2 separate regions of the Homo sapiens genome follow, and region 2 is linked to region 1. Evidence: fine-mapped expression QTL. A gene starts in region 1. The other region holds a variant in brackets. All regions are shown on one strand. Distances are between the middles of the regions.

Region 1 (5,353 bases):
TATTTGTCCCCTATACATCCTGAAAAGTTTGGAATTGGCGGAAACTGCATTGACTGGGTATCTGGACATGCATTGGAGGATCTCCCACTAATGTCCTGCGAGGCCATGGCTGAGTCATTTCACCCTTCCAAATACCAGATTTCTTCCTATAGCAAAGGTTTCCACTAGGTGAACTCTAAGAACCCTTTTATCCTAAGAATCAGAGTATTTTGAAGCTGACCTCTTCCTTGATTTTCTGAGTTGTGACAGCATCATCTGTCTGAAGAAACCAACCAGTATGAAATGGGAGAATCCTAACCAGTAAATTTACTAGATCCAGCCTCTCTCAGGATAGCACATAACAAAATGCTAGAATGAACTGTTATATAAAATTCACATAAAAATGACCACATATGCCACTTTTATTGGGAAATTACAAGGAGAATGTGAATCTAATATCTACTGATGAATTATTCAACTATATTTCAGTCAGCCTGGCTGACTGGATGACAGAGTATGAGTATTTTTCAAGCACTCATAGAAAACTCCTGAACTCTCTTGAATGTTGGCTTGATGGTTATTTCTGGTGAAGAATGGACACCTGAAGGTATAAGAAGAGAGACCCTTTCTTTAGGAATGGGAAAGGACATCATTATGGGATGCCCCAGGGGATCATTTGAAACCCTTTAAATATACATCTTGGGGAAAGAAGACTTTATCCTGACTGGATATCTGACCTGGAAAATACCTTCCAAGACAAAGAACAGTGAGGTCATACACAGAGGGCGTGAAAGGCTTAGGAAAAGAGTAAAGGAAGCCCCAAGAAACAGAGACTGTTGAGTCCAGGGGAGTTTGAGAAGCCATAGGAGACTGAAATAGAGGCTTATGCATATGTTGATGATATATGCGTGATTTGGAGGAAGTCAGAGAGAAACATGGCTGATTTCTCAGCAAATACACTTTAAAATGCACATGTTCTAAACCTAACCCGCTATCTATAAACGCCAGCAATAGCCATGATTAACTAACTAGTAGAGACGCAGAGGGTGGTAGGCATGAGTTCTTCCCACTCAGGCACTGGGAGGCTTTCAGTCACTCCAAAGTCCCCACTGCCTAAATAGTTACAAGTTTGTAGTAGCAAATATACACAATATTACCAAATGTAACAGCTTTAAAAATCAGCCATTTGGCCAAGGCTGGAGAATTCTGTTTGCACCGGTTTCTCTTTTTGGAAGGGATCAAAATGTTGCCTCTCACAGTCCTTTGACTGTAGGAGAAATCAGAGGAAACCTGGATGGTCCACAGCAAGTTAGTATTTCCCACTGAAATAAACACATTCTTTTGACTCCCCTCCAGCCATGGAGCCCTGGCCAACAACTCACAATACAAAGCCGAGACTGGCTTCCACTAGGAACACAGCAACTGCTAATCCCCATTATCACACCCGACAGTGTCCACCACACCCCCATAAAGATGCATTTTCTAGTAACTAATAAAAACTGGTCCTGAAGACAATAGCCTCGCGCTCATCTAAATACCCGTTGGGATATTGCAAATTAACACCTTGTAAAGCAACCCAATTAAAAATTATGCCCATACACACAGTCTCACCCACCAAAACATACATCTGCCTCTCCAAATATTATGCAACGCTGGATTCTAAATCGGTCTTAATTTCTAAAAAGCCTACAGGCACGGATATAAATTCTCAGCTCTCGTGGCTGTGGCCGCCCTATGCACTCTTCCCAGTGGTGGACACAAACGTTAATGTACTTGTTATTATTTAAGGACACAAAAATATAGAAGGTGGCATTTTTCGCTTTCCCCTTCGAAGACTCTCCCCAGAGCTGCCAGATGAACGCCCACGCCACCTTCTCCCACCAAAGGTGGATCCAGCTAACAGGAGACTGGATCGCGACCATAGCGCGTTTGTGCCCAGTTCTGGGGAAAGCCTCATGTTAGCGAGTGGCCCTCGGCTCGTCTCGCAGATCGGCCAAGTACGCGGAGGCCGCGCGGTTTCACCATTAATACTCCTGAAGGACAATAGCTCATCAAGCCCCACCGAAAGCCCCGGACCCGTCGCGGAGCCTGGGCTGGCGGGGGATGAGGCTGAGCAACTCCTCCTAGAGGTGGTTATGTGGAGAAGGAGCAATCCCTTCTCCCTCCTCCTCCTCCCCCCGCTACTATCCGCGGCCCAGAGAACTGCCGCTTGCCGCCATTGACACGCACAGATAGAACCCAAAGAAAGGCAAAGAGTCCTGCCCGGCACCGGCGCCGCGTGGGCCAAACCTGCGCCCGTGGAGGGGCGCGCAGAGGGCACCGGGCGCCGGGAGCAGGCGGCGCAGCACCAGGTGAGCCCGCCATGGCGATGGCATTATTGTTTAGGGTGCTCCGGGGTCTGGAAACAAAACGCGCCGCCGGGGCAGTGCAGGGGCCGGAGAGAACCACCTCTGCCTCTCCCCCGAGCCCCTGCGGGCGCACCCTCGATAGCCGACCCACCCTCTGCAAAAACAAATTCTTAAATCCAGCTGCCCAACTTGCTTCCTTGGGCGATAAAGGGGGGGCTGCTAAAGAAGTGGTCAAATTCCTGCGGCCAGCGAGGGGCCGGGGGCGTCGAGGGTACTGAGAGGGGAAGGAGGAGGGATGCGAGGTTCAGCAGCGGGCCCCAGGCGAGGCTGGACCCGGAGGAAGCGGAGGTCTCCTGGGAATGCGGAGTTTCGGGCGCAGGAGCGGGAGGACGGAGGCGCCCGGCCGCCGATGGGCACGGGGCGATGGGTGGGGGGCTGCGCAGGGCCCGAGGGAGCCCGGGGAGGGCCGCTCGGGGGCCTCTGAAGGTGCCCGGGCAGGGCGCCGGCGGCTCCAGGCTGACAATGGAGGGGGCGCGGAGCAGCCGGGCGGAGGTTAGGGACCCGAGTCCGGGGGCGGGCCGCGCCGGGGAAGGTCAGGTCGGGGACGCCGGGTGGCGGGGCGAGGGCTGGGGGTTGCTGCGCGGACACCCGGGCGCCGCGGGCGGGCGTGCGCCCCGGGGCCGGCGCGGAAGAGGGCGCGAGGCCGGGCACTCCCCTTCGGTTCCCTTTCCGGGGCGCCCGGTGCCGACGCGCGCTGCGCTTTCACCGGGAAATGGCGGCCCGGCCGTGGCTCGCCTGGGCAGTCTGGCTCCCGCTTTGCGCGGGAAAAAATAATAATAATAAAAATATCGAAAAAGGGAATAAAAGTAAACTGGCTGCGGCGCAGGAAAGGGCTCTGCCGGGCGCCGGACGCCGTGCGTATCGCTCGCGGGGCGCGGCGGTTGGGGACCAGCCCTGCCTCCCCCGGCTCCCAGCCTCCAGCCCCGGCGCACCTCAGCCCCAGCCCGGCCAGCCCCCCGGATCGCCCGTGGGTGTCCTCCCCCGCCTTTCCTTGGGGGGGCGCCCTCAGTTCTTGCCCTCTTTGTTCCTTACAACAATGGCCAAAGGGGCATTGGTTCCCCAAGGGCCAAACGAGCTTCCTCCAGGAGTTTCCCGTCGCGTGCAGTGGACCACCGTGGGCCTGACTGAGGCCTGGTCCTTGCCAGGGTTTTTTGGCAACGGCCCTGGATGAGTGAAGGGATGAAAGGCGCGAGAAGAAATGGGCTGAGAAACCAAAGTGCGGGGCCCTGAGTGTTTGAGGGGACGCGATGGGAACCGTGGCTCCGCTGCCCTGATTTTAAGGGCAGTTACCCTGTCACAGCCACGCTGGAACTGAGGTGTCCTTCCAGCTTCTGTCCACCTCAGAGGAATTCAAAACAAGGGCCCAGTTCTAAGCCCCACAGACCCCAGGATCCCCTAGGGGCCATTAGTCCACCGCGGCAAATGGTTTCCTCACTTTGCTCATTTGTGTTTGTTTTGAAATCCAATTGTCACCTCACTGGGCTGCACAGTTGCTACTGAAACGGTTCAATAGGTGAGAGAAAAAGAAAACATTATTAAGAGCGAGAACGTGTCTTCGTGTGTGTTGTTTTGAACCACAAACTAAGCTACACATAATTCTCAATCCGTTTTAACACACTTTTTATTTTCAAACTAAATGTTAAGAGCTCCAAGATTTGGAAACATACTGGTGATTTTTAGAATTGTTTTAGCCTAAAATTACATATAAATAAATAGAGGCACTGCCCGGCGGAAAAGTTTATCTTGAGTCGCATAATTCACATCTTCATAACCCCTCTTTCCTGTAGCCAAATTTCCTTTTAAAACATGCCCAGTTCTCCTCTTCTCTGGTTTTTCCTATCCTACCACAGTTACACCTCACCTGGATCCATTAATTGTCAGACTTTACACATTATTAGTGGTTTCCTCTATATCAAAACTGCGTAAAAGAATTTACCTCCTTGAATCCGGAGTGTCCCTGTGATTCTGACCCTACTCCCTCACCATTCCATCTTCTGTCTGGTTCCCAGGATTTTTAAAGCGCCTCTGGTCTGCCATTTCCCAGTGGGTGGGACACCCTGCTAGCTATTGTCTGAGACAACCACATCTGTTTTCACTGCCTCCTGCCAGCAGAACAGGAGGTGAGTCCTGTCTTAGGCAACTTTAAATGAAAGGTATCTGTAACTTGTTACCGGGGAGGGATGTGCAAAAATTCAGCCAACTTTCTTAAGAATGTTTTTCAACCTTAAGAAATAACCTCCAAGTTAGATGCAGTCTTGGTAAATGGAAAGTATATTGCACAGAGATTAACAAAGAACTTGTGGTTAGAGATCATTCAACAAACACTTATTGAGCACCAAGTCTTTTGTTGTTTGTTTTGTTGTTGTTTTGAGATGGGGGTCTCGCTATATTGCTCAGACTGGTCTCGAAATCCTGGGTTCAAGGGGTCCTCCCATCTCAGCCTCCTGAGTATACACCAATTCTTAAACACCTCTAGATAGGGAAAGAAATGAAATATAAGGAAGTCATTGGGCCCTTCTCTCATAAAGCTTACAACCCCAAGCCTAGGAGATAAAATATACATGCAGGTAAAACAAGGTAAAAAGTGATTTTGGCAAGCTAGTGGGAAAACAGGTACTTTCATATACTGCTGACTGGTGTGTAAATTGATATAACCAATTGGAAGAGCAGTTTGGCACTATAAAATTAATAATGCACACATTCTGTGACTCACCATTCCATTTCTCAGTATGTCACCCAAAGAAGCAGGCATCCGTGAGCTCAGCATGTATAAGGATGTTCATTGCAATTTTGGTCATTCTGAAGTAGAAAACAGCCTAACAGCCATCAACAGGGAATGGCTAAATAAACTCTGGTGCATCTGTCTTCTGGAATATTAGGCAGCAGTTCAAAAGAATGAAGCAGATCTATACATACTGAGACAGAAAAAGATCACCAAGATGTACTATTAATGAAAAAAGCAAATT
Region 2 (5,371 bases), 100 kb before region 1:
TTGGCCAGGCTGGTCTCGAACTCCTGACCTCCAGTGATCCGCCCGCCTCCGCCTCCCAAAGTGCTGGGATTACAGACATGAGCCACTGTGCCCAGCCAAAAATATTCTTATCCTCTGCCTTCCTCTAATGAACATCTACCCTGCAGCCTTCCACTGCAGGAACAGTGCACATGACAACCTCTGACCCCAACCTTTGGCTCCTATACTGGCTAAAAAGAAATAATGACCATTATTATCATTATGAAGCAGCTATCGTTTACTGTGCACATACTATATTCCATTATTAAGCATTTAATGTGCACAAAGAACTCACAACATTTTTTTTTCAGACAGGGTCTTGCTTTGTTGCCCAGGCTGAAGTGTAGTGGTGCAATCATGGTTGACTGCTGCCTCAAACTCTTGTCCTTGGCTCAAGTGATCTTTCTGCCTCAAACTCCTGAGTAGCTAGGACTACAGGGACATGCCACCACACCCGACTAATTTTTTTATTCTTTGCAAAAATGAGGTCTTGCTTTATTGTCCAGGCTGGCCTCGAACTCCTGGCCTCAAGTGACCCTCCTGCCTTGGCCTCCCAAAATGCTGGGATTACAGACATGAGCCACCATGCCCAGCCTCACAACAAATTTTTGAGGCAGGTATTATTGTACTCATTTTACAGGTAAAGAAACTAAGGCTCAAAGAAGTAACTTCACAAAGTCACGCAGCTAACTGTCAGAACCAACTCTGACTGCAAGCCTTTGTTCTAATACGCTGCCCAGCATTCAGTGTCACCCTGGAGTGACACAGTTGAAGTCCCCAAGCGTTAGATAATCCCCCTTCCATAGAGGAGGGGAGCTCCCAGGAAGACTCCCTAGGGGCATACTGAGCCCCCTTTTTAGGAAACACATATAAAAATGCAAATGCAAATTCATTACAGAAGTGATGCTTCACTTTTAAAAAGAATTCCCCACAGCCCTTCTTTAAATAGACTCTGACACATACAATATAGGATTCAATTTAGAAAAATGATGTTTACTGTAGCTTTTCAGAAACAAATGAATTCCTTAAACCAACATATTCATATACAAATAACGGTCTGACTTCAGACCAGGATGAACCAGAGACACAGATAGAACAGGAGAAGCCAGCTGAGCACAAGGGGCCATCCGTGAGCTCTGGACACACACATACATATGTGCACATGGACACACATGCATAATAAAGGCACACACATGTGTTCACGTGCCCAAGCACATACCCACACACACTCAAACGTGGGCACACACACACATATACACAAGCACATACCTGTATACTCATACATACATATACACACATGTGCACAAGCACATATATGCATACACTCATACATGCTATGTTCACACACATCCCAGGGCTCCAAGCAAAATCACCTTGCCTCCTAATAGAATGTCAAAAGGATAAACATTAATTGGGGAAAAAAAAAGTTTTCACCCCAAAGCCTTTCAAAAACAGACTCAAAGAGAAGGAAGTTGGTCCCTAGCCACTGTGTTCAGCACAGACCCACGCTGGGCTTAGTATTAGCAAAACCGGCCACCAAAATCTTCAGTCTGTGGTTCCCTGCACCTGCAGCTCTGAGCCCTCTGCCTGTCCTCCCCTCCCCCTCCCACCCACCTTAGCCAAATTCTCAGGTTCCTGGGGGGTGGGGAGGAGGTGGGTATTGACTCCAAATCCTACTGGGGAGAATATCCTAATTTAAAGCATCTCTTTTTCCCTTTTTAATTTTATTTTTCTTTTTCTGTCTTCAACCTTAACACATGAATGATCTTAAAGTTTTGATGTTTTTTTCTCGGACTAAACCATTATTTACAGGGGGAGAGGGGGAAGAAAGGCTCTAGAGGGCCTAAAGGGGATAAGGGAGACCAAGGAGCGCCTGGATTAGATGCCCCCTGCCCATTGGTATGTTTTTGTTTATCACTTGCATTGTTCTGGTTTTTGTTCTTGAGGTTTGTAAGTTGGAAACAAAGAAGGCAAATAAACTAAGATGAGAACCAAATGTCTACACGGATGCTACCAAAATCTCTCTGTTCATTTGACTGGTGAAATTCTGCCCGCTGTTGGATTTGCTTTGTAACCACAGCTGCAAGTAATTCTGGCTAAATCCCTTGCCTTTGAATCCTTTTCCTTTGAAGATACAGAGCAATCGATGTGTGGAAGTGAGGAAACCACTAGGAAAGGGATTTTCAGGGAAGGCCTCAGCTCTTAGCTCCAGGATGGCTTTGGAAGCCAGTGTAGCATTTGTGAGCCACGGATTTGCCTTCTTCGTTTCATGGCCACCTCTGTGGGCCAGTAGTTCAAGCTGTCTGAATCCTCACTTGATCAGGATGCAGGACACCAGAGTTAGCGTCTCCTCAGGGCCACTGATGCTCAAAACTGGGCAGAACAAGGCCAGATGAGGGGCTTCTAATGCACAGCCTCCCAACACTCACCAGCCATCCAGCTGAAACCTTTAAAGCTGCAGACCAGAACTGGTAGTCAGACAGACACCCCATGGGAAGCCTTCTCAAAAGAGCCAGCAATTAATGATGAGGCACTTCTGCTGGGTTTCTCAAGTGCCTTTGAATCCATTTGAAGGTTCTAAAAATTATGATGCACTAAAGTTGAAGTTTGTCTGTGTTTACACTAAGTGAGTCTGTAGAGAGAGGAGGATCAACGGAGAGGGGGCAGGTTGTATGTGTGCAAAGCTGAACTCTCCAGAGCACAAAGAGAGCACAAAAGCTGGATTTGGGAGATGGGGGATCACCTGGGATTTAGCCCCTGTTTGTAGATGCCTCAAGGGTCCTGCATCCTGGCCAGGGTAGGACTGGGCCTCTCTATTCCATGGTTGGAGCTGGCCAGCCTTGACCTGAATAATCATCGTGGTTGGTTTTGTGAACAGGGACACCGAGGTTTTAAAGGAGAGAAAGGGGAGCCGGGGTTACCAGGGCTGGACGGACTGGATGCCCCATGCCCATTGGTATGGCATTGCCCTTGCTTGCCTGCATGGCCGATTTGGGCTTCCCCATGTGTGTGATTCATACTGGGTTTCTCCCCAGCCACCCTCCACACTCCTCCTCCATCCCCCCCAGGCTCCACTTCCCACTTCTTCATTCTGTAAA[T/C]GCCAAGGGTCACCCCGCCTAGGCTAGTACTCTGGGGGCTCCCAGTCATGCCACCCTCTTGCATGCAAAGTTTACTGGGATGTTTCCTGGCTTCCTGCTGCAGCTACCTCTAAAGCACAGCCACTTGATGCCAGCCAGCTCTCCCACCCTGAAGTTGGTTTTGGCTGCCTCTGATACTCATCTCCAAGCTGATTCTAGACAAAGCTGCCACCAGATACCAGCTAGGAAAGTGGATTCTCTGGACTGGTTTTCAGAACCATGACTCACTTCTTTTCCTTCAGGCAGTGAAGTTAGTTCAGAATCACTGGCTGAGCACCTAGCGAAACATGTGAATGAGATGCCTGATCAGCCCTGTATCCCCTGCTCCTCCATCACATGATTTGGGGGACAGAAGGGCATGATTACAGAGTAGACTGAGAAGCTCTAGAAGTGAGCTGGAGGAGGGGCCACCTGCCTATTCTTCCAGGTTGGATCGTGGGTCGCTGCCCAGGTGACACCATCAGAACTAGGGGATGGTCCAGGATTAGGTTTTCGGATCCTAAAGGGTTTGTCCTTCTTGCTTAAATCTCCAAAGACATTACCAGACCCTTCCTCGTCCCTTTCTTTCATGATCAGATGGCTTCTTACTGAAGAGTCTGGGAGAGACGGAAAGGTCAAGAATGTAGTTAAGGAGGAGGCAGGGAGACAGCTAAGGACCTCTCTTCCAAGCACGTCCCAGGCGAAGTGGTAGCAGTTTATTCCCGCCTGCCCAGTCCCTCTCTAGGCATGGACAGTCTAGGCCTCCACGCTGATCCTCTTACTGCAAAAGAAGCTGAAGGGAACACTTCACTCCAAGGCTCAAGGGGTTACAGCTCTCCCCAAATTTCCCCAATAGGTTTGGAGTTCAAGAGCTATTTTATCATACCAGTAATAAGAGAATTTGGGGTCTCACATCCCCGCCCTGGGGTCACACAGGAATTCTCTTTGAACAAAAGAGAAAAAGATACAAGAAATTATGCTGTGTGACCCTGAAAGGTGGTCGTAGAGCCCCTTGAAGGGCAGTAGGGACTTTTTAGGAGGAGCATAGGCAACAAAAGGAGAGTGCAGAGCAAGCAGGCGGGTAGCATGCTTCCTGTCCCTGCTGGTCCTGCCAAACCCTGCGCTTGCAGACTGCACAGCCACCTTTCTCAACCAGGACTTCCACCATCCACGCACCAATGGGAATGCCGCTCTGGCCCGCAGGGGCTCCCTTGAGCACTGGCCAGGTCTTCCCTCAGCCACAATCCCCTCCCACAATCTGGGCACCTTTAGTTCTGCCAGCAGCTGCCTTGGCCTCTCTGTTCCTCACCATACATTACTTTTCATTCTCTGCCTGCCCTGCCCTCCATATCCCCCTGCCACCATCCACACACCAATGGGAATGCCGCTCTGGCCCACAGAGGCTCCTCTCCCTCCCGGCATCCATGTGACGTGTGTCATACCGCACCGTGGCAGGCTGGGGAAGGGGCACAGGGTCACCCTGAAACTGTGGAATGCACCTCCTCCCCCTGCAATCCCCTCCCCAACCCAGAGGGGAAAATGAAGGTCACCCTGATTTGACTCTCCATGTAAAATGGCATTTTCTTCCATAACATCCCATATCAATGTGTCAATTTTCTATTAATTTTACTGGGGAAGTGTCTTCCCCTTGTTTCTCACTCTGCCTCCTCCTCTGTGTTATTATGGGCTTGAGGGGCAGGGGTAGCTATTGCTCATGACTTTTACTACAAGATAACCAGACTTCCTAAGCCCTCCATATTGGGACCAATTTCTGCTGAATGCCAGGTGATGAGAGGTTTCAGCCCCTGGCGTGGGTGGATGACGTCAGACCAGGGCAGCAGAGGACTCTCATTCCACAAGCTCCCTCAGGACTGAGCACTTGCTCCGGGTCTCCTGAAGCCCCATGTCCATCTCCTTGTCTGCCCTGCCAGTCTAGCAGACTTGGGCTGAGAACCAGACCTTTGCCCTTGGCCCAGCCTCGCCTTCCCCACTGGGTCTCTAGATTTCTAGATTCCCCATAGGGTATGCCAGCAAGGAGAGGATATGAGGGCCCAAGAAAACTCAGGAAAGTTTCTATCACCAAGGGCAGAACACGAACATCTTGAGGCTAAAGGAGCTGCATGGTTGCTACCAACAAAGGAGACCGACGGTGTGCAGTTGATTCCCATGTTTTTACTGCACTTCACCCCCAAATTCCCAGCAAGGTCTAAGGCTTCGCCAGGAACCCTTGTCTTCTT

Which allele goes with the higher level. Alleles are on the strand shown, and positions count from the first base shown. SD is a standard deviation of normalised expression in the study named.
As copies of C replace T in region 2, the expression in macrophages of the gene that starts at base 2,176 in region 1 goes down (moderate effect, 0.69 SD a copy in Nedelec 2016).

What was found. PIP is the estimated chance that this variant, and not a neighbour inherited with it, causes the effect.
Region 2: its variant is fine-mapped to the expression of MACROH2A2 in macrophages (Nedelec 2016, PIP 0.95). The same link has a PIP of 0.9 or more in monocytes after LPS.

The regions. Positions count from the first base shown.
Region 1 is chr10:70,050,671-70,056,023 of GRCh38, forward strand. MACROH2A2 (macroH2A.2 histone) reads left to right here and starts at 2,176. Exons shown (of 9, transcript NM_018649.3): 1 at 2,176-2,330.
Region 2 is chr10:69,951,052-69,956,422 of GRCh38, forward strand. It overlaps COL13A1 (collagen type XIII alpha 1 chain), which reads left to right. Exons shown (of 41, transcript NM_001368882.1): 39 at 1,831-1,917. LOC107984242 (a long non-coding RNA gene) reads right to left here. Exons shown (of 4, transcript XR_007062181.1): 4 at 3,844-3,927. Among named protein-coding and RNA genes, the nearest start is that of LINC02636, 56 kb to the right of the region's middle. The variant T/C (reference allele first, on the strand shown) is at 3,117.